Linked DNA regions of Homo sapiens. The protein of the gene in region 1 interacts with the protein of each later gene in a biochemical or structural test. Each region holds a gene or a part of one and is shown on either strand. Other genes may lie near its edges.

Evidence for each region.
Region 2: the proteins of GOLGB1 (region 1) and ACBD3 interact in far-western blotting, tested with the Homo sapiens proteins (one study listed by BioGRID).

What each region holds. Positions count from the first base shown.
Region 1 is NC_000003.12:121,736,707-121,752,092, reverse strand, and holds the start of GOLGB1 (golgin subfamily B member 1), read left to right. Parts: upstream 1-2,351; 5' UTR 2,352-2,461; exon of another isoform or gene 2,462-3,083; intron 3,084-15,386. UniProt on the Homo sapiens protein: May participate in forming intercisternal cross-bridges of the Golgi complex.
Region 2 is NC_000001.11:226,178,634-226,195,000, reverse strand, and holds the start of ACBD3 (Golgi resident protein GCP60), read left to right. Parts: upstream 1-8,259; 5' UTR 8,260-8,325; coding exon 8,326-8,611; intron 8,612-16,367. UniProt on the Homo sapiens protein: Involved in the maintenance of Golgi structure by interacting with giantin, affecting protein transport between the endoplasmic reticulum and Golgi. Involved in hormone-induced steroid biosynthesis in testicular Leydig cells.

The DNA.
Region 1 (15,386 bases):
GTTTTGCTCTTTAACTTCTCCACCTCATTTTCTTCCTTCACACCCCTAGTGTTCACTATAATTCTCACCATACTGTGCTCACCCAATAATAGAAGGTAGAGCTATAAGAAGACCTACTAGACAGAAAAAATTCTAATCTCGTCTCCCATAAGAAACTTTCATTCTGTTAAAACTGAAAGGTAAATTCTAAGGTCGAATGTGGAAATAAGTATGTAGAAAGGTAAATTTTGTGTAAGGGAGTACAATAGGACTCTCAGTGATGGCTTCTATTTTCTCTAAGATAGAAGCAAGTTCATCTGCTAGGAGTGTGAAGTGTAGACACGGGGTTGGGACTTAAAGAGGATGTTAAAGGTTTGAATAATTGTGGCAAATAGGAGAGGAAGCTGAAGACAAGAAGGATTTGGGAGTGTGCTGAAGATGGAGTTCAGCTGGAAACTGAATGTGCAGTGGTCAGGACATTGATGTCACTGATGACATTGTCCTGATGTCTCCTGCAGCATTTTGCTCCCCAAAGGTAGAAGTAGAGACCAATGGTTGGACTGATGCAGGTTTAGGACTTTGCTGGGTGGATACAATCAGGGATATAAGAATATGATGTATTCATTAAGTACTGCAGCATTCAAATTCTGTCTCTGCCCCTCACCATGTGACCTTGTGCAAATTATTTAACCTTCTGAAGTCTTATTGTCTCACATTTAAGATAAGGATAATCATATATACTTTATTAATTTAACAGATATTGAGTGCCCTCCTCTATACTTTTCTGGGACCTGGAGATAAAGCTGAGATCAAAATTACTACCTTCCTGGAGCTTATAATCTAATGAGAAGAGAGATACCAGATAAATGAAATATATAGTACTTTAGATGGCAAAATGCTTAGGGGAAAAAGAAGCAAAGAAGAAGTATATAGTGCATGCAGGAAATTGCAATTTTATTTATGTTTGTATTGATACATATTTGTACATATTTATGGGGTGTGGTAGTTTGATATATGCATACAATGTGTAATGATCAAATCAGGGTGTTTAGGATATCTATCACCTCAAACATTTATCATTTTTGTGTTTGGAACATTTCTAATCTCCTAGTTATTTTGAAATATATAACATATTGTTAACTATAGTCACCCTACTGTGCTATCAAACACTTGAACTTATTCCTTCTATCTACGTTTGTACCCATTAACCAATCTCTTCCCTCCCTCCCCCAACTCCACCTTCCCAGCCTCTGGTACTTATCTCTACTCCATGAGATCAACTTTTTAAGCTCCCACATGAGTGAGACCATGGGATATTTGTCTTTCTGTGCCAGACTTATTTCACTTAGAATAATGACCTCCAGTTCCGTAAGATGGGCAGCCAGGAAAGGCCTTACTTAGCTGATGTTTGAATTGTGAAGTTATGTAATCATTAAGATGAGTATACATACAATGGGCCAGCTGAGTGCACAGCAAGATTCAATAAATTCAAACTAACATTACTCTTATTGCCAAGAGAGTGCCTGAAATGACAGCTCATTGGAAACTGGCTACTTTCCTTCCCTTTCCTTAGGGGTTTAAGGAAAGCATGAGTGATTTCAGTCTTTTGCTGGAGCTCCTCACTGACACTCATTGCAGAGCCTGAGCCCTCAACTCTCAATCTTTGCTTAGGTCCTGGCTTAGGCTCCACTTTGTAAGAGGCACCTTCCTAGTATTCACTACTCTCTCTCTCACAATCATGTCCTTACAGACATTGCTGATCCTCTTTCATACTGACACCGGGTTCTAGTCCGAGTTCCATCACTAAGTCGCTGTTTGACTTTGGGCAAGTTACTTCTGTGGTTAATTATTTTTCATCAACAAAATCAAAAGGTGAAACTAGACGAACAACTAAGAGGCTCCAGTATTTTTTCAATCTAAGAGTCCCATATCCCCCACTCCCTTCTCACAGCTCATTCAACAATCCTAATGGCAGCGGGTGCCCGCAGTCTCAAGTCTCTGCCGAAGCCCAAGCCGCTGTCTCGGTCAGTCACAACCGACGAAGAGGAGGAATTGGAGGAAGCCAGCATAACCACTTCACACTGAGAACATCTGACCTTTCCCAGAACGCCCGCCCACTCGACACTTCCTGTCCCTCCCCAGATCTTGTTCCGGGGCACCTACTCGCGTCTAATCACTCCCCTCATTCACTCTTTAGGGTCCATTGGCTGTTTCTTTGAGGAAGCGGAGCATCTTCTGTCGTTGATTGGTTTCCGTCATTGTTGATAGGTTGGTAACAAACAAGGTGTGCCTGGTCTCCCTGGTAACGTCCTGCCGATAGTCCTGATTGGTCGGTGTCTTAATCCCATCTTCCGTCCCAACTGCTAGTGGCTGAGTCCCTGGCGGGGCGCGGCGGTGGAAGGTGTCGCGTACGGGCTTCCCGAGCTGACGTGGCTTGAATTGGGAGGGGGGCAGCTGGAGCCTCAGGCGGCAGCGCTTCTAGGTGAGTAGGGGACGCTACCCAACTCTTCCCTCTGCGAGTCCAATAACGGTCACCCCCGCCAGAGGGGCCGCGGGAGCTGCCCAAGCAGCTACACCGGAGTCCCCTCCTCGCCCCGCCTCTCCCGGATTCAGTCCTGGATCCGGCCCTTCACCCGCCTCCTTCACCTACCAGGCCTAGTTCTAGTAGCCCACAAGCCTCGGCCTCTCCGGTGGGCCTTCGGGGTCACCCTGCGCAGACTTGGACCACTTGCTCACGGTCTGTCCCCTCCCCGGTACGTTTCTCCTCTGGGAGCGACGGGGAAAAGCGCCTAGGTCAGTCCTGTCCGCACGGCCTTGTTCCTGGAGCGGCCTGCCTAAGTCGGCCTCCGTACGCAGCCGCTGACGTCGGAAAGAACCTGCTGGGCCCCTGTGCTCAGGCCCTAAACAAACTTGGTGTCCCGAAGGGGAGGCGCGACCAAAAGAAATCAAAGGTCTTTAGGGCGGAGATCACAGAATCATTGGAGATATTAATGCAAACGGAGGCCTGTCCAATAATCCTGCTAATGCTAATGGGTTACTGGAAAGATGAGAAGAGAGGAAAGATCCCAACGATCCCGTCAACACGAAAATCCCAGGAATCAGAGGTGGGCAGGCTGTTAGAGAAAAAGGAACCTCTAAGAGAGTTCTCGAGGAAAAATAACTTGGTTTGATGGTGTGGAGTATGTTTAATCTGCACAACCGGAATGTGAAAGGGAGGGTGAGTCCTTTGAGGAATGAGGAATATATTTGTCTGACTTATTTAAAGAGCTCCAGTTGGTCTATGGGGAGCGGACAGTTTGAGAGTGGGACAGGGATATTTACAATCATGGGTAAGTACTTTCACTTTTGGAGATAGTTGGAAGCTGTCTGAGCATTTAAAGGACCTTTTTACAGTTCTGTGCAAGATGCAAGCAAGTGGAGGGCTCTTTACATAAGGGCCAGAGGCCTTTCCAAAAGCGTGAATTGATAAGATTTAGATGGTCAGAATGGTTATGAAGGGGCAAACTCAGGAAATATCCTATTGGAAAAATGGCAGGATTTGGTTTTGGAATAGATGCAGGAAAAAGTTGAAGAGTACTCAAAAGTTGCAGGCATTGTACATTAACTGCTTCATAGCTTTTACTTCTCATCCCTTGACCACAGAATGACCATTTAATGTTTTTCTTTTCACTGCATCAATATTTTTTACTACCTCAGCAGCTTCCAAACCTTTTAATTGCACTCCCTATCAGTAAAACATTTTTGAGCATGCATCTCCCCAAATGTTGTGTGTTTAATTATTTATAGTGTATGACTACCACTGTAAATATGTTGTGTATAATATGAAATATGCAAAAGTATAAACGTAAAAGAATGAAGTTTTTAAAAAGCCTTGTCCACACCTTGGGACCTCCCAACCCAATTTGACAATCACGTAAAGATACTTCCTTGTTTTTCAAGAAGGTCGTTGGCATTTCTGGCATCCAGACTCTGGGATGCAGCCTTTCTTAAACATGATCTTTAGAAGATTTTTTTCAACCTTCTGCTTGAGTTTTATAGGCCCCCTTTCTTTTTCTCCCTTTGATTAATGGATTAATTAAAGGGATGTTGACTTTATCCTTGTTTATAAAATAAATCATTCATTAATTTCTCTAGGTTAATTACTATTAGGAATACCACTGATCATTACATACCAGTCTGTGGTTAGAAACCATTATGTAAAAGGAGACTAAGCTCTATATTGCTGTATTTTTAATTAAGCTATTTTAAAATCAGCTATATGCTTTTGATAAAAGGAAATTTAATACAGAAGGATACAATGTAAAAAAAGTCTTTTTCTTTTCTATCTACTGATCTACCCATCTCCATTCCCCACTTCCCAGAAGTAAGCACTGTAAATAATTTCTTGGTTATATTTAAGAAACTTTCTGATCATAATAAAGCACATGATAATATATACCCCCTTCTGTCTTTCCCACAAGTGGAATCCTAATACACATGCTTTTGCCATTTAGTACTGTATATTAGGCACTTTCAATATCCATGGGTATAAAACTACCTCATCCTTTCCATGGCTACACAGCAGTCCTTTGTAAAAATATAAAAATAGTATTTAGCCTGTCCCCATTGATGGACATTTAGATTTTCAGTCATTAGCCATCAAAACACTGCTGTAGTGTTTTGTTATATAACATCCATGTGTATATATGTATATATATACATATATATACGTATATATGTATATATATACGTATATAGACATATACGTATATATACGTATATACACATATATATACATATATACGTATATACACATATATACATATATACATATATACACATATATATACATATATACATATATACATATATATATACACACATGGATTTTTGTTTTGTTATGTAACATCCATACATAACATGTTTTGTTATGTAACATCCATATATATATATATATATATATATATATATATATATATATATAACATCCATGTATATATATCTTAGGGCCCTTGTGTGAACCTGTCTGTGGTATAAACAATATGGAATTATTTGGGGCCATACTAATATGAATCATTTTAGTTTACTTACTGCTTTAAAAAAAAGTACTTACCTAACTATTAACATAGTGCCTTTATCCCTTCATTCTGTTTTCAACCCGAGTAAAGAATATTGGATAATGAGATTATTCAGAAAATAAAATATTTTCTGTGTATCTTCACCCACCAAGAAGCTTTGTCGAACTATGTGACTGGGGAAATTACTTAACATCCCTCTGCCTTAGTTTACTCACCTTAAAACTGGGAATATTGACGGTACTCCCTCTTGCGGTTGTTTTAAGAATAAAGTGAGTTAGGCCGGGCGCAGTGGCTCATGCCTGTAATCCCAGCACTTTGGGAGGCCAAGGCGAGTGGATCACTTGGAGTCAGGAGTTTGAGACCAGCCTGGCCAACATGGTGAAACCCCTGTCTCTACTAAAAATACCAAAAATTAGCCAGTCGTGGCAGCGGGTACCAGTAATCCCAGCTACTGGGGAGGCTCAGGCAGGAGAATCGCTTGAACCCAGGAGGCAGAGATTGTAGTGAGATCGCGCCACTGCACTCCATCCTGGGCGACAATAGTGAAACTCCGTCTCAAAATAAATAACATTAAATAAATAAATAAATAAATAAATAAATAAAGTGAGTTAAATAACGAAAAGTAAGTTATGTGTAAAGATATTGGAGCAGTGTTTGGCAGGTCACGCTGTGTATGTATGTTATAGCTACCACTTACAAATTCATTTAATTAAAATAGTGGCTTCTGCATCATGAAAAATAGTTGTTCATTTTCTAATTGTAAAATTATGTCATAATATCGAATGTGTTATTTCCAGCTATACAGCACTACCCATTAGCCCCTCAACTTGGTTGAAAATCACTTTGAGATTTAAGGAATTAAGGACAGCTACTGAGGCTTAACTAAATAAGCATGAAATAAGTTTGAGGAGTCACCTCAACTGAAACCTAACCACCTTCTCTGTGTTTCTGTGGGAAAATGTGATTTAAATTCCAAAGTAGATGGCATATATGCATATATACACAGGCATGCACTCACTGTCTTCAGTTATTTTGCTTATTTTCCTGTGCATATTGTTCTGTTTTCGGTGGCTAGGGACATGCTTTATAATTCTTTTTATATTTTTATAGTTCCTAGCATAATGCTGAACACCAGGTGGTTGTTATAAGAATAATCATTGATAACAGTGAAGACTTGGAGAAAATAAAACTTACTTAATTCTGAGTGCCACTTCAACACATAAGTGTTAAGGTCCTGTGGCAGGGTTTGTGAAAGCTGTGACCAGCATAGACTGAGGAATTGTTTTATTTGCCTTAGTGTTTTATGGAATCCCTGGCCTTGGCATGAAGCTCTGTGTTTTATTCTTTTCCTTAGTTGCTATTCATTATTTTGGTGCCTTATAAAATAACAGCAAGAACATTGTCCAACAGTCATACATATTCCTTACATGAATTTATGACTATGAATATGACTATTCCCCTTTATTAATCTTTACATATATGTATACATATACATACACGTATACATATGTATATATATACATACACGTATACATATGTATATATACATACACGTGTACATATGTATATATACATACACGTGTACATATGTATATATACATACACGTGTACATATGTATATATACATACACGTGTACATATGTATATATACATACACGTGTACATATGTATATATACATACACGTGTACATATGTATATATACATACACGTGTACATATGTATATATACATACACGTGTACATATGTATATATACATACACGTATACATATGTATATATACATATACATACATAGATTTATGACTATGACTATGAATATTTTCCCCTTTATTAATTTTTATCTATACATTTGCCCATTTCTGTCCTCAGTGAGCCTAATAGAGGGGAGTACCCATCTTTCTTCATTTAGCTTAAGCATGGCTACTTACTGGCTTTCTTGCCCTGTAGTTCCCAACCTTTGAGCTACCAAAAGCCTACAACTGTGGGTGAGATGCCCTTCCATTTACATTTCCAGATTATTCCTTTAATGTCAACAGCTGTAGAGTAGGGGGCATTAGAATGGTCCTTGTTAGTCTTCATTTTAAGATGAGGAAACTGACGCTTTAAGGTGACTTACTCACTATGATGCAGCTTCTTATTGAGCCAGGACGGAAAACTCAGTTCCTTGGCTTCCAGTTTGGTGCTCTTCCCACTATGTCACCTGCTTTCCTGTGGATCTCTGAGACTGTTGAATCAATCTATGAGAGACTCCTTTTGTCCTGCCTGAACAGTACATCTCTAGCACTCTCTCAGATTTTTATCTCATTTAAATATTAGTCTTTCCTTTCTTAAAATGTACATATTTTTAAATGGTTATGTGAGAAAAGTAATCTATTTTTCCTTTAAATAGCTTTTTGTTTTATTCTATCAATCTTTTTAATTTTTTTTTTTTTTTTTTTGAGACAAGGTCTTGTTCTGTTGCCCAGGCTGGAGTGCAGTGGTGTGATCATAGCTGACTGCACTCTCAAACTCCTGGGCTCAAGTGATCCTCCTGCCTCAGCCTCCCGAATATCTGGGACTGCAGGCATATGCCAGTATGCCCAGCTAATTAAATTTTTTTTTTTTTTTTTTTTTTTGTAGAGACAGTCTCACTATGTTGCTCAGGCTGGTCTTGAACTCTTGAGCTCAAGCCATCCTCTCACCTCAGCCTTCTAAGGTGCTGGGATTACAGGCGTGAGCCACCCTGCCTGACTGCTATTGTATTATATATTTAACTGAGGGACCTTGAAATGTCTTAATTTCTGAGTGTCAGTTTCCCTCTATAAAATGGGGATGATGATAATACTTATCTTACAGATTTTGTTAAGATTAAAGAGTATATAAAGTGGTACAGTCACTTTGCATTTAAATTAAATGTTTCTCAATTGTTGCCATTAATATTATCATTATTATCCTGTGTTCATGTGTATGTGTTCCTCATTTGCTATGATATTCAATGATATTCAGTAGGATGCTGATGGGCACGCTCCTTTCTAGGGAGGGTCAATCAGAAACTCATGTGGTAGTGGTATGGGTTTCCATAATGGATTTCATAATAATTAATGATATTTGAATTACTAGAATAAATCCACTTGGTGATAATATTTTTCAGTATCTAGTCAGATTTAGTTTGCTAATATTTTATTTAATATTCTAATTAAAATTTATTAGAATGTTGTCATCAGTATTCATAGGGAGATGGTTTGTAATTTTTCATTTTCTTTTTCTATGTTTTGGAGCAATATAAACAGCAACTTCTGTAGCACTTAGATTATCTCATTTTTGACAATTTGGTAAAGTTTTCTAATAGCAACTATTTCTGGTGTTTTAGCATTGGTGACTTATTTTATAATTTTTCCATGGAAATATGTGTATTTATAATTTGTATTCCTAGAGGTATTAATTTTGATTAACTGTATTTTTTTTATTATACTTTAAGTTCTAGGGTACATGTGCACAACGTGCAGGTTTGTTACATAGGTATATATGTGCCATGTTGGTTTCCTGCACCCATCAACTCGTCATTTACATTAGGTATTTCTCCTAATGCTATCCCTTCCCCAGCCCCCAACCTCCAACAGGTCCCAGTGTGTTATGTTCCCTGCCCTGTGTCCAAGTGTTCTCATTGTTCAATTCCCACCTATGAGTGAGAACATGCGGTGTTTGATTTCTGTCCTTGTGATAGTTTGGCGAGAATGATGGTTTCCAGCTTCATCCATGTCCCTGCCAAGGACATTAACTCATCCTTTTTTATGGCTGCATAGTATTCCATGGTGTATATGTGCCACATTTTCTTAATCCAGTCTGTCATTGATGGACATTTGGATTGGTTCCAAGTCTTTGCTATTGTGAATAGTGCTGCAGTAAACATACATGTGTATATGTCTTTATAGTAGCATGATTTATAATCCTTTGGGTATATACCCAGTAATGGGATCACTGGGTCAAATGGTATTTCTAGTTCTGATCCTTGAGGAATTGCCACACTGTCTTCCACAATGGTTGAACTAATTTACACTACCACCAATAGTGTAAAAGCATTCCTATTTTTCCACAACCTCTCCAGCACCTGTTGTTTCCTGACTTTTTAATGATTGCCATTCTAACTGGTGTGAGATGGTATCTCATTGTAGTTTGGATTTGCATTTCTCTGATGACCAGTGATGGTGAGCATTTTTCCATGTGTCTGTTGGCTTCATAAATGTCTTCTTTTGAGAAGTGTCTGTTCATATCCTTTGCCCACTTTTTGATGGTGTTATTTTTTTTCTTGTAAATTTGTTTAAGTTCTTTGTAGGTTCTGGATGTTAGCCCTTTGTCAGATGGGTAGTTTGCAAAAATTTTATCCCATTCTGTAGGTTGCCTGTTCACTCTGATGGTAGTTTCTTTTGCTGTGCAGAAGCTCTTTAGTTTAATTAGATCCCATTTGTCTATTTTGGCTTTTTTTGCCATTGCTTTTGGTGTTTTAGTCATGAAGTCTTTGCCCATGCCTATGTCCTGAATGGTATTGCCTAGGTTTTCTTCTAGGGTTTTTTATGGTTTTAGGTCTAACATTTAAGTCTTTAATCCATCTTGAATTAATTTTTGTATAAGGTGCAAGGAAGGGATCCAGTTTCACCTTTCTACGTATGGCTAGCCAGTTTTCCCAGCACCATTTATTAAATAGGGAATCCTTTCCCCATTTCTTGTTTTTGTCAGGTTTGTCAAAGATTAGATGGTTGTAGATGTGTGGTGTTATTTCTGAGGGCTCTGTTCTGTTCCATTGGTCTATGTATGTGTTTTGGTACCAGTACCATGCTGTTTTGCTTACTGTCGCCTTGTAGTATAGTTTGAAGTCAGGTAGCGTGATGCCTCCAGCTTTGTTCTTTTTGCTTAAGATTGTCTTGGCTATGCAGGCTCTTTTTTGGTTCCATATGAACTTTAAAGTAGTTTTTTCCAATTTTGTGAAGAAAGTCATTGGTAGCTTGATGGGGATGGCATTGAATCTATAAATTACCTTGGACAGTATGGCCCAGTGTGCTGTAATTCTTATTCATACATATTCAAATTATCCTTTTAGCCAATGGGAACCTGTGTCCTTTGAAAGCTTCCTATCTTGTATGACAAGATGTTTCAGGATCATTTTGTACATTTCCACTTTAGAAATGGAATTAGCCATTTCTCTAAGAAAACCTTCTTTTAAAAACTTTTTTAAAAATGGGAAAGAGTATTTCAAGACCCCAATCTAGGCACTAGAGATATTCATTGCTTCTCAGTTTGTCATTACTTTTAAGCCTTTTTGGTGGACAGAGCTAGGAAAATATGTGAACAAATATAAAATACTGAATTGTCATTTCACACTGAGTGTTCCTATTCAGATTCAAAGATTAGTTTGTATTTCGGGGTTCTTAATTTCTTCTGTATTACATCTGTATCTTCTTTTCATAACTGAAAATACAGAATTAGTGTATCCATAATTATCATTTGCTTTAATTCTACATTTCACATATAGTAATCTAGGAGTGATGATACGAATATCACCACCACAACCACTTTAGACGAGATCGGGTGTGTTCAGGATGGTATGGCCGTAGACAACAACCACTTTTAATTATTGAAAACTGTTTAAAAATATTTTTTATTTTTTGCATATGCTATTCACATTCTTCCCGATTTTTTTTCATGGTTGTCCTATATATTGTCAGAGCATATAATCATTACATACTATGCTGTCTCTCCTCCAGTCTTTACTTAGTCTTAATTCTGTTAGTAACCGTATATTTAATGCTCACCACTAGTTCTTATAATGATGTTTCTTTAGTCATTTGGATTGCCTCAAGTTTTGCCTCTAGTAAATTCTTTAGGAAAGGCTTAAGGGAATATTCATATTTCATGAATTTTCTTGCTCGTTCATAACATTTTGTCTGTGTTTTTTATATCTAAAGTTTGTGTTTGCCAGAAATAGAATCCTTGGCTCACTTTTTCTTTTCTTGAATATCTTAAATTTGTAACTCATTTTTTTTTTCTGGCAAAAACATTGCTGTTGAAAAATCTAGTGCTTTTTTTTCTTTATCTTACTGGTCATATGATCTTTTAGCCTAAAGCCTAAAGGATTTTTTTAAGTCCAGTAATTTTACTAGAGTGTTTTGTTGGTCATTCTGAGTTGACATTCTGAGGTACATTGTGGGCTCTTTCAAGATGTAGTTTCAAATCTTTTTAAAAAAAATTTTCAAATAAATATTCTTGGATTATGGTTTTTCATATTTGTGCTGTTTCTTTGCTTTGCTTTTCTTCTTCAGGGAATCCTGTTATTCACATTACTTATCTTCAATATTTATCTGTTTCTCGCAAATCCTATGTAACTCTTAATTTCTTACATTTTTTAAAAATAAACAAATTATTAGGAATTATTTCAGATCACTACAGAAAGTTTACTACAGAAAATTTGCAAAGATAGTGCAGAAGTCTGGTGTATCCTTTGCTTAGTATTCCCTAAGATTAACATGTGACATTAGCAGTGTACAAAATTAAGAAACCAACATTGGTACATTAATATTAACTGAACTCCAGACGTTGTTCACATTTCACCAGTTTCTCCATTAATGTCCATTTTCTGTTCCAGGATTCAATTCAGGATATCATGTTGCATTTAGTTCATTTCTTTTTCATTTGTTTTTTAAATATGAAGACAATTGTAGAGTCACATGCAGTTGTAGGAAATAATCAGAGCTCTTTTATACACTTTGTTGTTTCTTCCAGTGGTAACATTTTGCAAAACTAATACATAATATCACAATTAGGATATTGAGATAGATATATTCCCCAGTTTTACTTGTATATTCATTTGTATATGTATGTATGTGTATCATTAAGTTTTGCAGTGTTATATCACCTGTGTAGGTTCCTGTATCCACTGCCACAGTCAAGATATTGAACAGCTGCAACACCACAAGGATCCCTTGTGTTGCCTTGTTATGACCACAGTCACTTCCCACCCCAACCCCTCTCTAACCACTGGTAATCACTCATCTTTCCTCCATTTCTAAAATTTTGTCATTTCAAAAATGTTATAGAAGTATGGAATTGTATAATATGTAACCTTTTGGGACTGGCTTTTTTTCATTCAATGTAATTTTCTGGAGATCCATCTAAGTTGTTGGGTCCATCAGTAGTTCGTTGCTTTTTATTTCTGAGAAGTATGTGATGGGATGTATGTACCAGTTTGTTTAACCATTTGCCTGTATATATCAGTTTGCTTAACCGTCTATTAATAGAAATAAAGCTGCTATGAATGTTTATATACAGCAGGTTCTCTTGTGAACTTAAGTTTTCTTTTCTCTAAGATAAATGCTGGGGAGTGGAATTGAGGGTCATAAGGTAGTTGCATATCTAGTTTTTTAGGTCATTTCTTTTTGATTTTTAAAATTATCCTTCATTTCAACTTTGCTTTTTTTTAATGACATGGTTTGTTATATTTACTCATTTTCTTGTTCCTTCTAGTTTCATCTTCATTTCCAAAATGATTTTTTAAATTTTTCAGTCACTTCTTGTTTTCACTTTATTTCTGGGTTTTTCTATTTCTGATGTTTATTTTTTCACATCTTATGTCATTTTTAATGCCTTTTAGTTCCTTCAGTAGATTTAAGTGGTTATAGTTTTGAACTGTTTTTTTGAGCATGGCTCTCTGACGTGCTTCCATTTTCTGTCGGGATGTTATCATGATCGTTTTCCTCCTTTTTTTTCTTCTAGTAATGTATCTGAATTGTGAGACTTTTCAGTTGCTCTTTTTTTCTTTTTTGTGACAGGGTCTTACTCTATCACCCAGGCTGGAGTGTAGGGGTGTGATTATGGCTCACTGCAGCCTCCACCTCTTGGGCTCAAGCAGTCTTCCCACGTCAGCCACCTGAATAGCTGGACCTACATGCATGTGCCACCATGCCTGGCTGACTTTTTAAAAAAATTTTGTAGAGATGGGATCTTGCTATGTTGCTCAGGCTAGTCTTGAACTCCTAGGCTCAAGTGATCCTCCCACCTCAGCCTCCCAAAGTGCTAGGATTACAGGATGAGCTAGCACGCCTGGCCTCAGTAGTTCATTTTTAATATGAATTTAGTGTTGCTGAACTTTTAGAAAGAGATTTTATACAGCTTTTCTAACTTGATAAGGTTTCCTCTTGTGCTATTTTCAGACATTGTTCAACTATATGGCAGCTGGATTTCTCGGATTTCCTGCCTTTCTTTCCTTGCCACTTTCACCTGCTCTTTATCTGGACCTCCTCTTTCCTTAGTCACTTAATTTTAATTCTCCTCTCAGCAGATTCTCCTCAGTGTGGGACCCTATCCTGGAAGAGAGCCCCAACTCTTCAGTTCTGAGAATTAATAAAGGTCCAGACTGCCTCAGCTCTTTCAGCCCTCGTAGGCCCCTGGCAGGTACCTGTTATTGGAATGGGAAGACCCCTCCTTGTATCAACTACTGTTCTGTAATTGGCTTGGCGCATTTGCCAGTGAATGCCCACTGGCTCTTTTGAGGTCCTCTTGGTGTTGTACTCCTCTGGCTTCCCTCAATTTCCTCCCAGTTGAACACCAGTGACACCCAGATCTTTTGACTATTGGCGGTTTGTCTATATCCACGTTTATTTTGGGGTTTGTAGGAAACTTTGTTAAGTAGTTTTTTGGTAAAGGCTGTCCATGGATCTTTTGTTACCTAGTTGCTTTGTCTGTTTTTATGTGGGAATAAAGGAAGATACAAAATCCATGGGGCCCCTTGCTACTCCCATCTTCTCAGAATCCCATCAGTTGGTTATTTTGTTTTCTTTGTTCCAAAGTGGTCTGAAAAATCTGAAGATAAAGTGATTCTGTTTGATAAGTTAGGTTCCATTATGATTTTCTTTGATTAGCAGAAATCTATATGTTTAAGAAACTCTTTAGTGATGGTATTCATTTCCTTCATTAAAAGTTAACCAAAGAAAATATGATCTCTAAAGTTGAAAAGAAAGTTTAGAATCTGTATACTGCTGAATTGTGATTTTTTAATCCTGACTATAGCTGTGGTTCTCATATCTTGAATAAATAGTTATATATGGCCCTATGTACTCATGTATGACACTGTGTTGCCCTTCCAGTATTTAGATATGAAGTTATATATGATCCTGCGCTGCCTTCCTAGGGAACAGTTCACTTTTTCTATTTCTGTCTCACGTATCTTTTCCAAGTGATGTGCTACTTAGATTACCCAAGACAATCTATTAAAAAAACAGGTATCTCTCATCACTTCTTTCTTAAGAACCATGGCTGCCCTAAACACTATTATTATCCCCAGTAGAAGAAAACTGTAGCAGAGCCTAGTTTCATTTAAGTGTTTATTTTGTACAATAGTTTTTATATTTCTTCTTGCTGAGGTTTTTTTTTTTTTTTGAGACGCGGTCTTGCTCTGTTGCCCAGGCTGGAGTGCAGTGGTGCGAATCTTGGCTCACTGCAACCTCCACCTCTCAGGTTCAAGTGATTCGTCTGCCTCAGCCTCCTGAGTAGCTGGGATTACAGGCACGTGCCACCACACCCGGCTAATTTTTGTATTTTTAGTAGAGACGGGATTTCACCATGTTGGTCAGACTGGTCTCAAACTCCTGACCTCGTGATCCACCCGCCTCAGCCTCCCAAAGTGCTGGGATTACAGGCATGAGCCACCACGCCCGGCCCCTGCTGAGGGTTTTAAAAGCCAAATAACATTTTATCACAAAATGTAAAATTAGGCATAATCACGTAAACTAATGCTATGCATAGTCCAGTTCTATTTTGATTTTTCCTATCAAAGCATTAATATGCTTCTCATTTTCATGGACTTTATGGACTAGCAGTTGACACTGATCTGAATATGTAGCCTACACAGTGGTTATAAAAGTAAATTGATTTTGGAATAACCTTAGATTTACATACAACTTGGGAAGATTAGACAGACAGTTATTGTATACACAAAGCATCCTCTAATGTTAGCATTTTACACAACCATGGTAGCTTTTTCAAAACAGAGAACATAGGTGCAATGCCATAAACTAAACTATAGGTAGACTTCATTCAGATTTCACCATTTTTTCCAGTAATGTCCTTATTGTGTTTCAGAACCTAATCCAGGATACTGCCTTGCGTTTATTTATTTATTTATTTAGAGGCAGGGTCTCACTCTGGCACCCAGGCTGGAGTGCAGTGGTGCGATCTCAGCTCACTGCAACCTCTGTCTCCCAGGTTCAAGTGATTCTCCCATCTCAGACTACCCAATAGCTGGGACTACAGGTGCATGCCACCACACCCGGCTAATTTTTGTATTTTTTAGTAGAGACGGAGTTTCACCATGTTGGCCAGGCT
Region 2 (16,367 bases), on another chromosome or scaffold:
ACACCTGTAATCCCAACACTTTGGGAGGCTGAGGCAGGTGGATTACTTGAGTCCAGGAGTTCAAGACGAGCTTGAGAAACCCCATCTCTACAAAAAAAATACAAAAATTAGCCAGGTGTGATGCAGTGTGTCTGTAGTCTCAGCTAATTGGGAGGTTGAGGTGGGAGGATCACCTGAGCCTGGGAGGCGGAGGTTGCAGTGAGATTGCGCCACTGCACTCCAGCCTGGGTGACAGAGTGAGACCCTGTCTCAAAAATAAAATAAAAGAGACTCCAGAGAGCTCCCTTGTCCCTTCTACCATGTGAGGACTCAGCCAGAGGATGGCCATCTATAAACTAGGAAGCAGGACTTCACCAGACACTGAATCTGCTGGAGCCTTGATCTGGGACTTCTCAGCCTCTCGAATGGTGAGCAATAAATTTCTGTTGTTTTTAAGCTACCCAGTAAATGGTATTTTGTTATAGCAATTCAAGCAGACTAAGACAGTGGTCAGGCAAGTAACAATATAAATTGATAGAGAGCTGTGTAAGATGATAAACCGATTTTTTTTTTTTTTTTTGAGACAGAGCTTTGCTCTTGTCGCCCAGGTTGGAATGCGGTGGCGCGATCTCGGCTCACTCCAATCTCCACCTCCCATGTTCAAGTGATTCTCCTGCCTCAGCATCCTGAGTAGCTGGGACTACAGGCACACACCACCACGCCTGGCTAATTTTTGTATTTTTAGTAGAGACAGGATTTTGCCATGTTGGCCAGGCTGGTCTCGAACTCCTGATCTCAGGTGATCCACCCACCTTGGCCTCCCAAAGTGCTGGGATTATAGGTGTGAGCCACTGCGCCCAGCTGATAAACTGATTTTTATCATTTTCTACAAAACCAAATATAGGTCCATGATAGATAGCATGGACAGTGTCTGTCACCATGGGCTGGGGGACTGTTGAGAACTTGAGAGCACATGTCTCTCCTGAAGAAGGCATTCTCTACACAACTGCACCTCATTGTTGTCAAGCACCAGTGTCAGGCCCACAGTTGCCAGATTTCTTAGTTTTTTAAGGTAAGTCATAAATCTGGATTTTTACATTAAAATTCCAGATTTTAAAATGCTAGCAACCAATTCAAATTTAAAGCATTATAGGGGCTAATTCTTCCAAGCCAAATAAAAGATACTAGTGGGTAGGCTTTATCTTGGGAGCCCCGAGTGTGCAAACTCTCTTTTACATTGTAAGGGAGCATTGTATATAATAGTGGACAAAATTTACTAAAGGCCCAGTACGTGTCAGGCTAGTCCTTTTTGCTATGTTGCCCAGGCTGGAGTATAGTGGCACGATCATAGTTCACTATAACCTCAAATATCCACTTACCTCAGCCTCCTGAATAGCTAGGACTACAGGTGTGCACCACCACACCTGGCCAATGTTTGAAATTTTTTGTAAAGACAGGGTCTCGCTGTGTTGTCCAGGCTGGTCTTGAACTCCTGGCCTCAAGTGATCCTCCCACCTTGGCCTCCCAAAGTGCTGGGTTTACAGGTGTGAGCCACTGTGCCTAGTCTCAAACAGGTCCTTTTCTATGTGCTTTACATGTACAGTATTCATAGATTCAGTCCTCTCAACAGCCTAAGAGGGGGATAGTACTATTATTCTCATTTTATAAAGGAGGAAACAGAAGTAAAGTAACTGACTCAACGTCACGAGTTGGTAAAATTCCAGCACTGGAAGCCTGGCCCTAATTTGGTGCTTTTGCCACAGTCTCACCTACTGGACCATAAACACCTTGGGTGTAGATACCACAGCACTCACCTTTGTATCCTAAAATACCTGGTATACGGCCAGGCATGGTGGCTCATGCCTGTAATCCCAGCGCTTTGGGAGGCCAAGGTGGGCGGATCACGAGGTCAAGTTCGAGACCAGCCTGGCCAAGATAGTGAAACACTGTCTTTACTAAAAATACAAAAATTAGCTGAGCATGGTGGTGCGCACCTATAGTCCCAGCTACTCAGGAGGCTGAGGCAGGAGAATTGCTTGAACCCGGGAGGCAGAGGTTGTGATGAGCCTAGATCATCCCACTGCACTCCAGCCTGGACAACAGAGCGAGACTCCATCTCAAAAAAAAAAATAATAATAAATAAAATAAAATAAAATACCTGGTATACAAGGCACTCCTTACATGTATGTTGAGCTGAACTGATATCGTACATAATAGTGTAATTACACCTTCATTCATTCACTCAGTAAGACATTCTGAACACCTACCATGTTTCCTATCCTGTGCTAGGGACTGTGGAAGTCCAGGGAAATGCCCCTTGATCTCTAAGTGCTTGCAGTCAAGGAATACAAAATAATTTTCACTACTAAAGGGTACTGCATTACTAAATAAGACTAACTGCAAAACTTTACTGAGTACTGATTATTAGTTCACCAGAAAAAGCAGGAAACAAAAAGTTGAACTCAGTCCCTGTCTAGTGATCCACGATATTTACAGAAAAGATGAAAATATGTGGAGAGAACAAATGGAAAGTCTAAATTTCAGAAAGCATTTCAGAAATGGTAAACACTTCATGTGGAAAATTATTGAATGGAATGGAGCTTAAGAAATTCACACAGCAAAGTTTGCGGATTGGAAAGTATCCTTTTTTGGCTGGGCGCGGTGGCTCATGCCTGGAATCCCAGCACTTTGGGAGGCCAAGGCAGGCAGATCACCTGAGATCAGAGGTTCGAGACCAGCCTGGGCAACATGGTGAAACCCCATCTCTACTAAAAATACAAAAATTAGCTGGGCATGGTGGTGCATTCTTCTTTTTTTTTTTTTTTTTTTTTTTGAGATGGAGTCTTGCTCTGTCACCCAGGCTGGAGTGCAGTGGCGCGATCTCGGCTCACTGCAAGTTCCGCCTCCTGGGATCGAGCCATTCTCCTGCCTCAGCCTCCCGAGTAGCTGGGACTACAGGCGCCCGCCACCACGCACAGCTAATTTTTTGTATTTTTAGTAGAGACGAGGTTTCACTGTGTTAGCCAGGATGGTCTCGATCTCCTGACCTCGCGATCTGCCCGCCTCGGCCTCCCAAAGTGCTGGGATTACAGGCGTGAGCTACCGCGCCTGGCTGGTGGTGCATTCTTGTAATCCCAGCTACTCAGGAGGCTGAGTCAGGAGAATTGCTTGAACCCAGGAGGCGGAGGTTGCAGTGAGCCGAGATCGCGCCACTGCACTCCGGCCTGGGCAACAGAGTGAGATTCCATCTCAAAAAAAAAAAAAAAAGTATCCTTTTTTTTTTTTTTAAATGAAAGCAAGTTTATTAAGAAAGTAAAGGAATAAAAGAATGGGTACACCATAGGCAGAACACCCAAAAGTATCCTCTTTTATAAAAGAACAGACATGGAGAAGATATTTGAAAGTTTTCAAAAATACACCTTTTTGATCAATCTGTGTGCCTCCTCACATATAAAAGACAGGGATATAGAAAAACAGGTAGTTGGCCGGGCACGGTGGCTCACGCCTGTAATCCCAGCACTTGGGGAGGCCAAGGCAGGCGCATCACGAGGTCAGGAGATTGAGACCATCCTGGCTAACACGGTGAAACCCCGTCTCTACTAAAAATACAAAAAAATTAGCCAGGTGTGGTGGCAGGAGCCTGTAGTCCCAGCTACTCAGGAGACTGAGGCAGGAGAATGGCGTGAACCCGGGAGGCGGAGCTTGCAGTGAGCCAAGATCGCGCCACTGCACTCCAGCCTGGGCGACAGAACGAGACTCCGTCTCAAAAAAAAAGGAAAAGAAAAACAGATAGTTGCGCTGAACTGTTTATGTAAGTTAGATTCTACTGTGACAAGTGCATTATAACAAAGATCTATTGAAAAATCTTGGGGGAAGAAGGAATTACAAAACAGTAATGGATGTTTGTTATTTTATGGTAATGGTTATACAGGTATATGCCTGTGCCAAAACTCATCATATTGTAAACTTTAATATTTGCAGTTTATTATACAACAATTATACTCAATAAAGCATGGGAAAAACACGTTTCCTAGACTTGCTATTCAAAGTGTGGTCTGTAGACAGCAGCATCGGCATCACCAGAAAGCTTATGAGAAATGTATACTCTCAGGCCTCCCTCTATACCTACTGAGTCAGAATCTGCAGTTTAATAAGACATTCAGGTGAGCGTGTCTGGAACTCATCTCCCACAGTGAACTGTTAAAGCGAAGTTATATTCTCTAATTTTTTAATTTTATTTTTTAGAAACAGGGTCTCCTTCTGTCGCCCAGGCTGGAATGCAGTGACGCCATCATGGTTTACTGGAGCCTTGACCTCCCAGGCTCAAGTGATCCTTCCACCTCAGCCTCCCAAGTAGCTGGACCCTAGGCACATGCCACCATGCCCAGCTAATTTTTTATTTTTTGTAGAGACAGGGTCTTCCTATGCTGCCCAGGCTGTTCTCAAACTCCTGGGCTCGAACAATCCTCCTGCCTCAGCCTCCCAAAGTGCTGGGATTACAGGCATGACGCACTGTGCCAACCCCTAATGTTTTTAGTCATTAAGGGCAACCACCTACACAATGGCCCTTGATGTTTCGATTAGCAAGAGGTTCAGATGCTTGGTCTAGAGGATGTTTGGGTTTTCCAACCATATTCAATATGTTAAATTACAAAACAATAAAAAAGTCCATATAATTTTTTTTAATGTATGTCTTTTTTTGAGACAGTCTCTCTCCATCACCTAGGCTGGAGCGCAGTGGTGTGATCTTGGCTCACTGCAACATCCACCTCTCAGGTTCAAGCAATTCTCCTGCCTCAGCCTCCTGAGCAGCTGGGATTACAAGTGCCTACCACCACGCCCAGCTAATTTTTGTATAAAAAGTCCATGTAATTAATTAATTACCATATTTTACCTACCTTCCTAGGTATATTCTATAGGTTTTAATAATTATTGTATACTTTTTAAAAAAATAACTTTTTTTCTGATTACAAAAGAAATGCTTATCGTGAAAACTTGGAAAACAGAATCTAGCATTTCATGAAGAAGGGTTATATTTACCCTACTCATTATCATCCCAACAGTTATTGAATGTTAAAGGTAGAACACTGAGCAAAACACAGGGGAATATATATGTATATATAACATTTTGAAGGTTAGGCACATAATATGCATATTTTTAAGCTAATGAAGCTAAATATAAAGATCCAAGCTAAGTGGGAAGAACACAGACCTTAGAGCAGTAGAATTAGAGTTTTTAGTCCTCTACAACTAGAAGTGGGTTTACCATAAAGTTAATGAAGCTCAAGCTTCAGGGCCCCTTGCTTACACAGGCCCCTCCCAAGGCCCTTAGAGCGGCCTTAGCAGTATACACTTCTGTAACAGTTTTGAGAGTAAGATATTTAAGACCTCTGTCTTCGTTTCTAACTTCCCTTCGTCATCCTCCTCTGGTTAGGAGGTATTGAAATGGCTATAGGCTTTGTGGGGGATTTGGCTAAGGGGACAATGAATAGGGATACATTTAATTTGGGGTCAGTGGCATGCATTTAAGTGGTTTGCAGTCACTTCTGCATGTTTTTAAATTATTGCTCACCATGGGTGTAGGAATGGCTTTCTGGAATATACCTACTGCCCATTATGTCAATTCAGCCAGCACCATGTCACAAAAGTGCAAGGCCAAAGGGCGAAGGAACCCTATGTTGCCTGACACAGGAAGTACTTGGGTAGTGGAGGAGCAACAAGGTTTGAAAGAAAAGAAAGAGCTAGTAAAATTCTTCCATTCTTTTTCCTCTTCTGGGGATGTTGTCTATAGGCACATAGAATGGTCCAGCGTTTGACATACTGTTGTAGGCTTTCCTACAATACAGCTTCTAATAAAACTAGGCTGTCCTGAACCCCTGGTAATATAATTGCTTACCTTTATACCAAGAAGGCTGGGAAAGCACCAAAATCTACTGTGGTGTGTACCCACGCAGACTTCAAGGGGTTCGTGCTATAAGACCCGAAGTCTTATGAGATTGTCCAAAACACAAAAAACCATGTCAGCAGGGCCTATGGTGGTTCCATGTGTGCTATATGTGTTTGTGACAGGATCAAGCATGTTTTCCTTATCGAGGAAAAGAAAATCATTGTGAGAGTGTTGAAGGCACAAGCACAGGGTCAGAAAGCTAAATAAAAAATGAAGCTTCTTTGAGTAATTAAAATTAAAAGACTTAAAAATATGCTTCCAACCATCAGAAGTGGAAGATTATAAGGAGAGGGATCAATTCTCTCAATGCCTAATCAAAATGAAGGTTCTCACTCACTGAGAATCTAAGTCATATCTGCAATTATAACTGCACCATACTTCATGTTTTTATGTGAAGCATGCAAAAGGGAATAGATTAGAAACCCTATGTTTATGGGACAAAAACTTATAGTTGTACTACAGTGAGTCTGTCTGTATGTGAAGTTATATGTCTTATCCACCGTAATGAATGAGATCCTGTCTGAATGCAGCATACAAATCTTGTCCTGAAAAAAACCCTCGGCCAGGCGCGGTGGCTCACGCCTGTAATCCCAGCACTTTGGGAGGCCGAGGCGGGCATATCACAAGGTCAGGAGATTGAGACCATCCTGGCTAACACGGTGAAACCTCGTCTCTACTAAAAATACAAAAAAATTAGCCGGGCATGGTGGTGGGCACCTATAGTCCCAGCTACTCAGGAGGCTGAGGCAGGAGAATGGCGTGAACCCTGGAGGCGGAGCTTGCAGTGAGCCAAGATCGCGCCACTGCACTCCAGCGTGGGCGACAGAGAGAGACTCCGTCTCAAAAAAAAGAAAAAAACTCTCTAGGGCTTCAGTAAAAACCACACACAAAATTGTCACTGAAGCAGCCAAACGGCCATAAAAATCTCATAGCACATCCATGAAACTTGAGAGAGGTTTCCCAAACTGAACAATAACCCTAAAAAAGTACGTTAACAATATCAGTAATGAGTTGTGATGCTGAAATAAATTTATAAACAATTATTAAGAAACAAATTTAATCAGCCATGCTGGAGAAAAGACTGATCTTTCTCTTTTCTTTATAGAGAATTACAAAATACGCCGGGCGCGGTGGCTCTCACCTGTAATCCCAGCACTTTGGGGAGGCTGAGGCGGGCAGATCACATGAGGTCAGGAGTTTGAGACCAGCCTGGCCAACATGGGGAAACTCTGACTCTACTAAGTTTACAAAAATTAGCCGGGCGTGGTGGTGAGCACCTGTAATCCCAACTACTTGGGAGGCTGAGGCAGGAGAGTTGCTTGAACCCGGGAGGCAGAGGTTGCAGTGAACCGAATTGCACCACTACACTCCAGCCTGGGTGGCACAGCAGGACTGTCTGCAAAAAACAAAAAAAAAAAAAAAAAAAAAAAGTTACAAAATAATTGTTATAGGAAAAGGCAATCAGAAGTACGCAGCCAAAACAAAGGTGGGAAAAATGATCATAAATGGTGCTCCCAAAGTCTGGAAACACAGGTGAATATACATAATGTCGGGGGCGACTTCAATCTTTTAGAAAAAAATAGGTTTCTGGGCTCTCAGACGCCCTGTAGAAGAATATCAGGCAGTCAATGAAAATATTACGGTTATGTGTGTGATGTTTGTGGGTTTTATTAACTTTTAAAATATCATTTGTTTTTTCTTTCTCTTTCTAAATATACATTCACTTTCCTACCCTTCTGCGCGTAACTTTTTGTACTCTTTCCTAATGAGGGTCCCCACAAATTGTATGAGCTGCGCTTCCTGCAAAACCAGGATCAGCCCCGTCTGCAACCTCAAAGTCACTGAATTTCTCTGCAGTCTCAGTTTCCCCTTTTAAAAAAATTGGGAATTTGCCCTGCATTTCCTTAGAGTTGCTGTGAAGGCCAAACGAGATGGTGGTGGGCAAAAGAGCTCTGCCAACCACGCAGGCCCCTGCAAATGTGAAGGGCCTCTGACCTGGAGGGTTGGGTGCTGGCCGACCTCGTCAATCCTCCCTACTCCGACCCCCGCGCGGGGCTCCACTGACCCCGCCCCTGCTGGGCACTGACAGCCGCAGCACCGAACCGAGCGGTGGGGGTGGTAGCACCCGCCCACCTGGAGCAACTGGGATCCGAAAGGATGGGGTGCGGGGGAGGGGAGTTCGGGACCAACGGGAGTTGGGGAGCCTGAAGGGTGGTCGCTGAGCCAGGGCAACTGACGATTCCGGAGGGGGTGGGGCGCCAGGCCTCAGCCCCTCTCCCGGAGCCCTCCAGCCTCCTCAGCAGCGGAAGTTCCGGTGTCGGTAAGCGGAGGTCAGAGGTCAGCAGGAAGTCGATACGTGGCTGCCGTCTGTCCCCGCTGAGGAGGTGCAGCAGCCGGAGATGGCGGCGGTGCTGAACGCAGAGCGACTCGAGGTGTCCGTCGACGGCCTCACGCTCAGCCCGGACCCGGAGGAGCGGCCTGGGGCGGAGGGCGCCCCGCTGCTGCCGCCACCGCTGCCACCGCCCTCGCCACCTGGATCCGGTCGCGGCCCGGGCGCCTCAGGGGAGCAGCCCGAGCCCGGGGAGGCGGCGGCTGGGGGCGCGGCGGAGGAGGCGCGGCGGCTGGAGCAGCGCTGGGGTTTCGGCCTGGAGGAGTTGTACGGCCTGGCACTGCGCTTCTTCAAAGGTGAGCCGGGCCAGCCCCACCCCCGCCGCTTCTGCCCGGCCCCGGGAGCCCGGCGTGGGCTGTGGTCCCCAGGGTGACTGGACCAGACTTGCCCTCACCCACTCATACTGGGCTGTGGTGACTCAAGCGGGGTTCCCTCCTTGGGGGTACCCGAAGTTTGTCACTACCCGCTTGGCCACTAGGTCACACCCCTGACGGGCCTGCAACCTTGGTTTAGCAGTCATGTCCCGCCTCCCAGAGGTTACCGGGACATTTTACCTGATTTAGCTTCTGGGATTTCCAGGAGCCCTGGTGGAAGAATGAGCCCACTTTCTTCCAAAGGATCCCATTCTGGGATTGCCTTTTATTATTATTATTTTTTTAACTGACGCTTTTCTTTTCCTATTTCCCATGGCTTGTCACATCAGAACCCGCCGATTTTTACCCTTAGTGGAAGAAATCTGTCAAGAGGTTCCATACATAGCTTTTCCAGCCATTCTTGGGAACCATAAACTGGAACAGGACTTGATCCCCCGGCAGATTGATGTGGCAGAGAGGAGGAAGTAAAGTGTTAAGCTCATCATCCTCTCCGGCTTGTCAAACTCTTGAGGAGAGATGTCCACTATGTTCTAGTAACTTCTAGGTGGTTAAAATTTTACATTGTAAGCAATGTGCAAGAGTGAATTCTCAGAGTAAGGCCTAACAGTACCTTCTGTGCTTTTCGCATAATTAATTGTTAAATGTCTCTTGTCTTAGAGCAAGATTGTAGTGTGCGGTTTTTTTTTTTTTTAATTGGGTGATTCACTTAGTCGAATGGTGGAGAGACCAATCACATGATTTTTGTCAGTGGGAAAAACTGATGAAAGCCCGTTAGTTTGATTCTTAAAGATACTTAGTCTTGTAGGGCGAATGGACAGGGAGGGACATCAGCAAATGCAACTTTAAAAGTGGTTGCTAGGTTCCACGTACATTCCAGAGCAGCATATTTATGACACTTTCCCCAGAGGGAGTACCTTTTGGAGTACATATTTTACTAGCCAAAGTTGAGTAGTTCAATGTAATGATACACACGGAAGTTGTTTTCTCTCAAAATAACTTTAATTGTGCAAACTAGTGAAAGTTTTATAAATTTTCCAGAACATTTGATCATTTCACATTCAATGACATATTCGTGGTCATTGCACAATGAGTTGAGCCCTCTGTGTACTAACTAGCTTGGGGAATTGGTAATGGCTAATGGGTTTTGGATCATTTGACTTTTAGATCACCGGCTTGAATTTAGAGTTTGCTGTAGTGATGATATATTACCACTTGATAAAAATCAGGTGGTTTCTGTACAATTCATATAGCTACATTCCATCTTAAATTTTTATTCTTGGAACTTATTTTTCAGTAAAGTATATTGTAGCAGAGAGTAAGAGTAGAAATGAACTAATTCCTTTTTTTTTTTTTTTTTGAGCTGGAGTCCTGCTCTGTTGCAGGACTGAGGGAGGCTGAGGCAGGAGAATCACTTGAACCCGGGAGGCGGAGGTTGCAGTGAGCCAAGATGGCACCATTGTACTCCAGCCTGGGCGACGAGCAAAACTCCGTCTAAAAAAAAAAAAAGAATCGCTTCAATATGGGAGGCAGAGGTTGCAGTGAGCCGAGATCATGCCACTGCACTCCATCCTGGGCGACAAAGTGAAATTCTGTCTCAAAACAAAGAAAAAGATTAAAACACTGTAACGTGTAGTATACTTAACATTGTTTGGAGAGTCAGGAAGCTCTGGATTCTAGTTACCTTGTAAACTAGACAATTAACTTTTCCAGAATCAGTTTCATATGTATAAAGGGAGCTGGATTCTATAAAATATGATGTCTCAGATTTAAGATTCAGTGGTCTTAACCTAACAGATTATTTTAACATGTGTCTTGAGTGGTAGGAATCCTGGGGAAACTTATAACTTGGGGCCTAGGTGTTAGTCACCTTAGAGAATAAAGCTACACTGATAGGTGTGGTTCACTCACTTCCTAAATGAAGTTCTCAAAGCAATATCCAGGTACTAAAAAGGAGAAATAGCTGTGTAGCAATTAAAAGCTACCTTTCTGCATGTGTCATTGGAGACTGTTAGTATATGAGACACTAACTGACAAAAGGGAAGGATGTAAAAGCAGTCAGAAGAATTATGGAATGTGGAGTGAGCCAAGTAATGCTGCCTTTGTTTTGTTTTTTGTTTTTGAGATAGAGTCTCACTCTGTCGCCCAGGCTGGAGTGCAGTGGTGCCATCTCGGGGCTCACTGCAAGCTCCACCTCCCGGATTCACTCCATTCTCCTGCCTCAGCCTCCCGAGTAGCTGGGACTACAGGTGCCCACCACCACGCCCGGCTAATTTTTTGTATTTTTCGTAGAGACGAGGTTTCACCGTGTTAGCCAGGATGGTCTCGATTTCCTGACCTCGTGATCCTCCTGCGTCAGCCTCCCAAAGTGCTGGGATTACAGGTGTGAGCCACTGTGCCCAGCCTGGTTTTTTTTTTTTTTTTTTTTTTTAGGCAGAGTTTGATTCTTGTTGCTCAGGCTAGAGTGCAATGGCGCGATCTCAGCTCACTGCAACCTCTGCCTCGAGGGTTCAAGTGATTCTCCTGCCTCTGCCTCCCGAGTAGCTGAGATTACAGGCATGTGCCACCACGCCCAGGTACTTTTGTATTTCTAGTAGAGACGGGGTTTCTCCATGCTGGTCTCGAACTGCCGACCTCAGGTGATCTGCCCACCTTGGCCTCCCAAAGTGTTGGGATTATAGGCGTGAGCCACCGTGCCCGGCACCTTTGTTTTAATGTGTGGATTTTTCTGGTGGAACACATGGTGTTTTGTCAGTCTTGCTGGGACTTTTAATCGCTATTCTATGGTTTTATACCAGTATCTCACGAGAATTAGAAATAACATTACATTTTCGGCCGGGTGTGGTAGCTTTTGCCTGTAATCCCAGCACTTTGGGAGGCCGAGGCGGGTGGATCACAAGGTCAGGAGATCGAGACCACCCTGGCTAACACGGTGAAACCTCATCTGTACTAAAAATAAAAAAATAAAAAAATTAGCTGGGCGTGGTGGCAGGCGCCTATAGTCCCAGCTACTTGGGAGGCTGAGGCAGGAGAATCACTTGAACCCTCAAGGCGGAGCTTGCAGTGAGCCAAGATTTCGTCCCTGCCCTCCAGCCTGGGCAACAGAGCAAGACTCCATCTCAAAAAAATAAATAAATAAAGGAAAGAACATTACATTTTCTCTTCCACTGTGGAATAAATACGAATCTTGAAAGCATGGATATATTTTTCCATTGCAAATAGCTTGGGTTGGAAATGACAAGCCCTATTTCTTATTCCATCCTTGTCAGGGTGGTAATAGGCCAGTGACTGAATCAATTACGTCAACTATTCTTAATTTTTTATGACAGTAAAAGTAAAATAGATGAAGATGTGGGTAAATGTAAGTTAGCATTTTACCATCTAAATTTCAGACATTATTGACTTTTCAGTATGGATAGTTTTATATTAGGTTACAACTATAAATGAATAGTACGTTATCTTTTGCTTAGAGTCCAAAAGAGGAGTTAAGGACCCAGTGACAACTGCAGTACAGTGTGGAGGACTGAGGGAGCAGATGCCATTCCAGAGGGGGGAAGGCCAAGAGCCATGAAAGCCATGAGAAGTCAAAGCATGTCTGTTTGCAAAATGGAAAATAGAAAGCAGTTTGATGGAGAGAGCTGGGAAGGTAACTGAGTTCAATTCTTGGAAGGACTTGCATGCCATTGTCATTTTTTTTTTCTGAGACGGAGTCTTGCTATGTCACCCAGGCTGGAATGCAGTGGCATGATCTCCACTCCCTGCAACCTCTGCCTCCTGGGTTCATGTGATTCTCCTGCCTCAGCCTCGTGAGTAGCTGAGCTTACAGGCTTGTGCCACCACACCCAGCTAATTTTTGTATTATTAATAGAGATGGGGTTTCACCATGTTGGCCAGTCTGGTCTTGGACTGACCCCAAATGATCTCCCCGCCTCGGCCTTCCAAAGCGCTGGGATTACAGGCGTGAACCACCGCGCCTGGCCATGTAAGTATTAATAGTTCGGCCTTTTTGTCAGTAAATTAGAAGATGAGGAACCACTGGAGGTTTTTAAAGGGAGGAGCAAAGTTGCTCAATTCTTTTTTTTTTTTTAGACAGTCTGGTTTTGTTATGCAGGCTAGAGGGCAGTAGTGCGATCTTGGCTCACTGCCCCCTATGCCTCCCAGGCTCAAGCCATCCTCCCACCTCATCCTCCTGTGTGACTGGGACCACAGGCACGAGCCACCATGCCCGGCTAATTTTTGTATTTTTTGTAGAGACAGAGGTCTTGCTTTGTTGCCCAGCTGGTCTTTAGCTCCTGAGCTCAAGCGATTCACCCGCCTTGGCCTCTCAAAGTGCTGGGATTACAGGCATGAGCTACCACGCCCGGCCAGAGTTGCCCAGTTCTATTTTAACAATGTTAAGCTAGGTTTTCTTATCTCCATGGGTTAAGGACCCACAGGAATCCAGTGGGTTCATTTTATTATGACCTTTATACTTCTTGGATGGAGTTGACCTGGGGAATTGTATTTTGGTTTTTAGAGTTCTTTGGGGTGGACTTTTCCTTCTCTAATACTTTATTACTGTATTACATTAAGCTGGTAGATTGTTTACATTAATTTAAGATTTCAGAGTAATAATTGTCAATAGTTATTGAGTAGATGTTTACTAAATCTCAGGTACTATGCCAAAAACTGTATGTACATTATTTTGTTTAATCCTCCAAGAGGCCTTCTGTAAGGGTATTAATCCCATTTCTGAGTTAAGGATCCTGCCTCAGGCCCCTCAGTTATTTGGAAGGTAAGTCTTGGACTCATTTTCTTTATGGAATAGTTCTACTAGCATTGCTATTGATTATACCCAATTGTGTTACTGATAGTAGAGTATTATATGTTGGGAGAGAATTATATTAATGATAGCAAACAAATGGACAACTGAAATGGTTCCATTTCCTCTTGTCTTCTTTAAACATAGGCAACTACAAGAGCATTTATAAATGGCTTCCTTAATGTTTTAAAATACTGTACAGCTGTAATTTATTCATTGGAAACATATATAATTAGTGTGCCTCCTGGACTTCAGTGGTCTATCCTCAGATAATTTCAAGTTTGTTACTATGGAACATCTATTAGAGTTCTTTTTCCCTTTTATTATCTTTACCTTTAGACATAAGTATGTAATACTGTAGGAGGATATATAGACCTAAGAGAGACAGATGTAAGACAGAAAAACAATTATAGCCACCAAGTTCATGTTAAATTTGAGCTGAACCAAAACTTTCCTTTGACTGGATTCAGGAATGTGTATGTGTTGTTGTTGTCATTGTTTTTTTTTTTTTTTTTGAGATGGAGTCTCATTCTGTCACCGAGGCTGGAGTGCAATGGCGCGATCTCAGCTCACTGCAGCCTCTGCCTCCTGGGTTCAAGCAATTCTCCTGCCTCAGCCTCCCGAGTAGCTGGGATTACAGGCACATGCCACTACGCCCAGCTAATTTTTGTATTTTTAGTACAGACAGGGTTTCACCATGTTAGTCAGGCTGGTCTCGAGCTCCTGACCTCAGGTAATCCACCTGCCTTGGCCTCCCAAAGTGCTAGAATTACAGGCGTGAGCCACTGTGCCCAGTGTGTATATGTTTTTAATGTAAGTGATTTTAACATTTTCCCGAGGCTTCCCTTTATCACACATGCAGTGCACTAAAGTACACAAATACTAAGTGTGTAGCTTGATGAGTTTTCAGAAAGTGGACAGTGTAGCCAATGCCCAGGAGCAGATGTTTTATCAGTTAACTAATACAAGAGCTACTGTGAATCAGTATTTAGAAAGGTAAGCTCTGGAGTCAACACTCTTTAGGGTGTGTTTTCCTTGCTCTGCCACTTAATTTTGTTAACTTTTTGTGCTTTCCTGTACTCAAAGGGTTGTTTTAGGAATTATAAGAAATTATATATATAAACTCTTAGCAGAATGCCTGGCTATTGGTATTTTTGTGGCTGCTTATGTTGTTGAAAAGGAGGTACTTCTGAGAATTGATTATGGATGTTTTGAGTTAATGGAGGGGAAGTCTTAAAACTTTTACTAAGCAGTTAGTATATGCTAGGCAATTCCCAGAGTGTTTCCTACTCATTGATTTAGGAATACTGCATTGTATTATCCTTTTTTTTTTTTTTTTTTGGGAGACAGAGTCTTGCTCTGTTGCCCAGGCTGGAGTGGAATGGCCCAGTCTTGGCTTACTGCAACCTCCGCCTCCTAGGTTCAGACTATTCTCTTGCCTCAGCCTCCCGAGTAGCTGGGACTACAGGCACGTGCCACCCCACCCAGCTAATCTTTGTATTTTTAGTAGAGACAGGGTTTCACTATGTTGGCTAGGCTGGTCTTGAACTCCTGACCTTGTGATCCATCCACCTCGGCCTCCCAAAGTGCTGGGATTACAGGCGTGAGCTGCTGCACCTAGTTGGTTTTTCAGTTTTAATATTTGGTTTTTTTTGGAGACGGAGTTTCACTCTTGGTGCCCAGGCTAGAGTGCAGTGGTGCGATCTCAGCTCACTGCAACCTCTGCCTTCTGGGTTCAAGCGATTCTCCTGCCTCAGCCTCCCAAGTAGCTGGGATTACAGGTGTGCACCACCACACCCGGCTAATTTTTGTATTTTTAGTAGAGATGGGGTTTCTCCATGTTGGGTCAGGCTGGTCCCAAACTCCCAACATCAGGTGATCTGCCCACCCGGCCTCTCAAAGTACTGGGATTACAGGCGTGAACCACCACGCCTGGCCCAGTTTTAATATTTCTAAAAGATGGATTTTAATCAAAGTGTATTCTCTGTGAGGCAACAGTGTGATATGGCCATGAAATAAAACAGATTTGATCTTAGGCTGCTTTGGTGGAAATATGGTAACTAGGATGAGGGAAAGAGAGAGATAGTCCTGCTCTCCTCTGCACCAAGGAGTACACCTCAAACAAGCCGTGGATACTGCTTGTTTGAGGCATCATCCTTTAGGGTTAAAAACAAAATGGAGCTCATTCAGAAGAGAGCAACTTGTACCTAGTGGGAATTCAAGTCCCTGCCATTATTATCATAATGGCTGCTGTTTAGTCAGTGTCTGCTCTGTGCAGGCACTATACAAAGATTTTGGGACACATTTCTAACACTCATATGAACCCTAAGGAGCAGTATTTATTTTATTGATAACAAAACAGATTTCAAAAGATTAAATAACTTGTCCATGTTATATACTTAATAGCAGAGCTGGGAATTAAATTTAAATTTGAAGTATGATTGACTAAGCTGGGAATGTGTAGCCAAGAGAATAGAGAACTCAGGGCAAACACAATACATATTTTGTGACTTTCTTGAGGTCTAATTAGTTAGATGTGTTTTAGTTAATGCTGAGGACAGGAAATAAACCCTGTGGATGGAGTTGAGAGATACCACCTCAGAATAAAGAGCTAAGAATCACAGCTATTCAAAGATGGATTAGACTGCTTTGGGACAGTGAGTTCTTATCACCAGGAAGTATTCAAGCATAGGTTAGCAATTGCTGGGTGGATATTGTAGAGAGGATTTGAGATTTAGTTTGCAATTCAATCACCTATCTTTAACATCCTTTCCACGCCGTAGATTTTATGGCCTTCTTTCATTAAATGAAGGCTAGAAGGGACATTGAAATAATTTGGTACTTTCCTTTGCCTCCAGAGAGAAGAGAAAAAATATGATT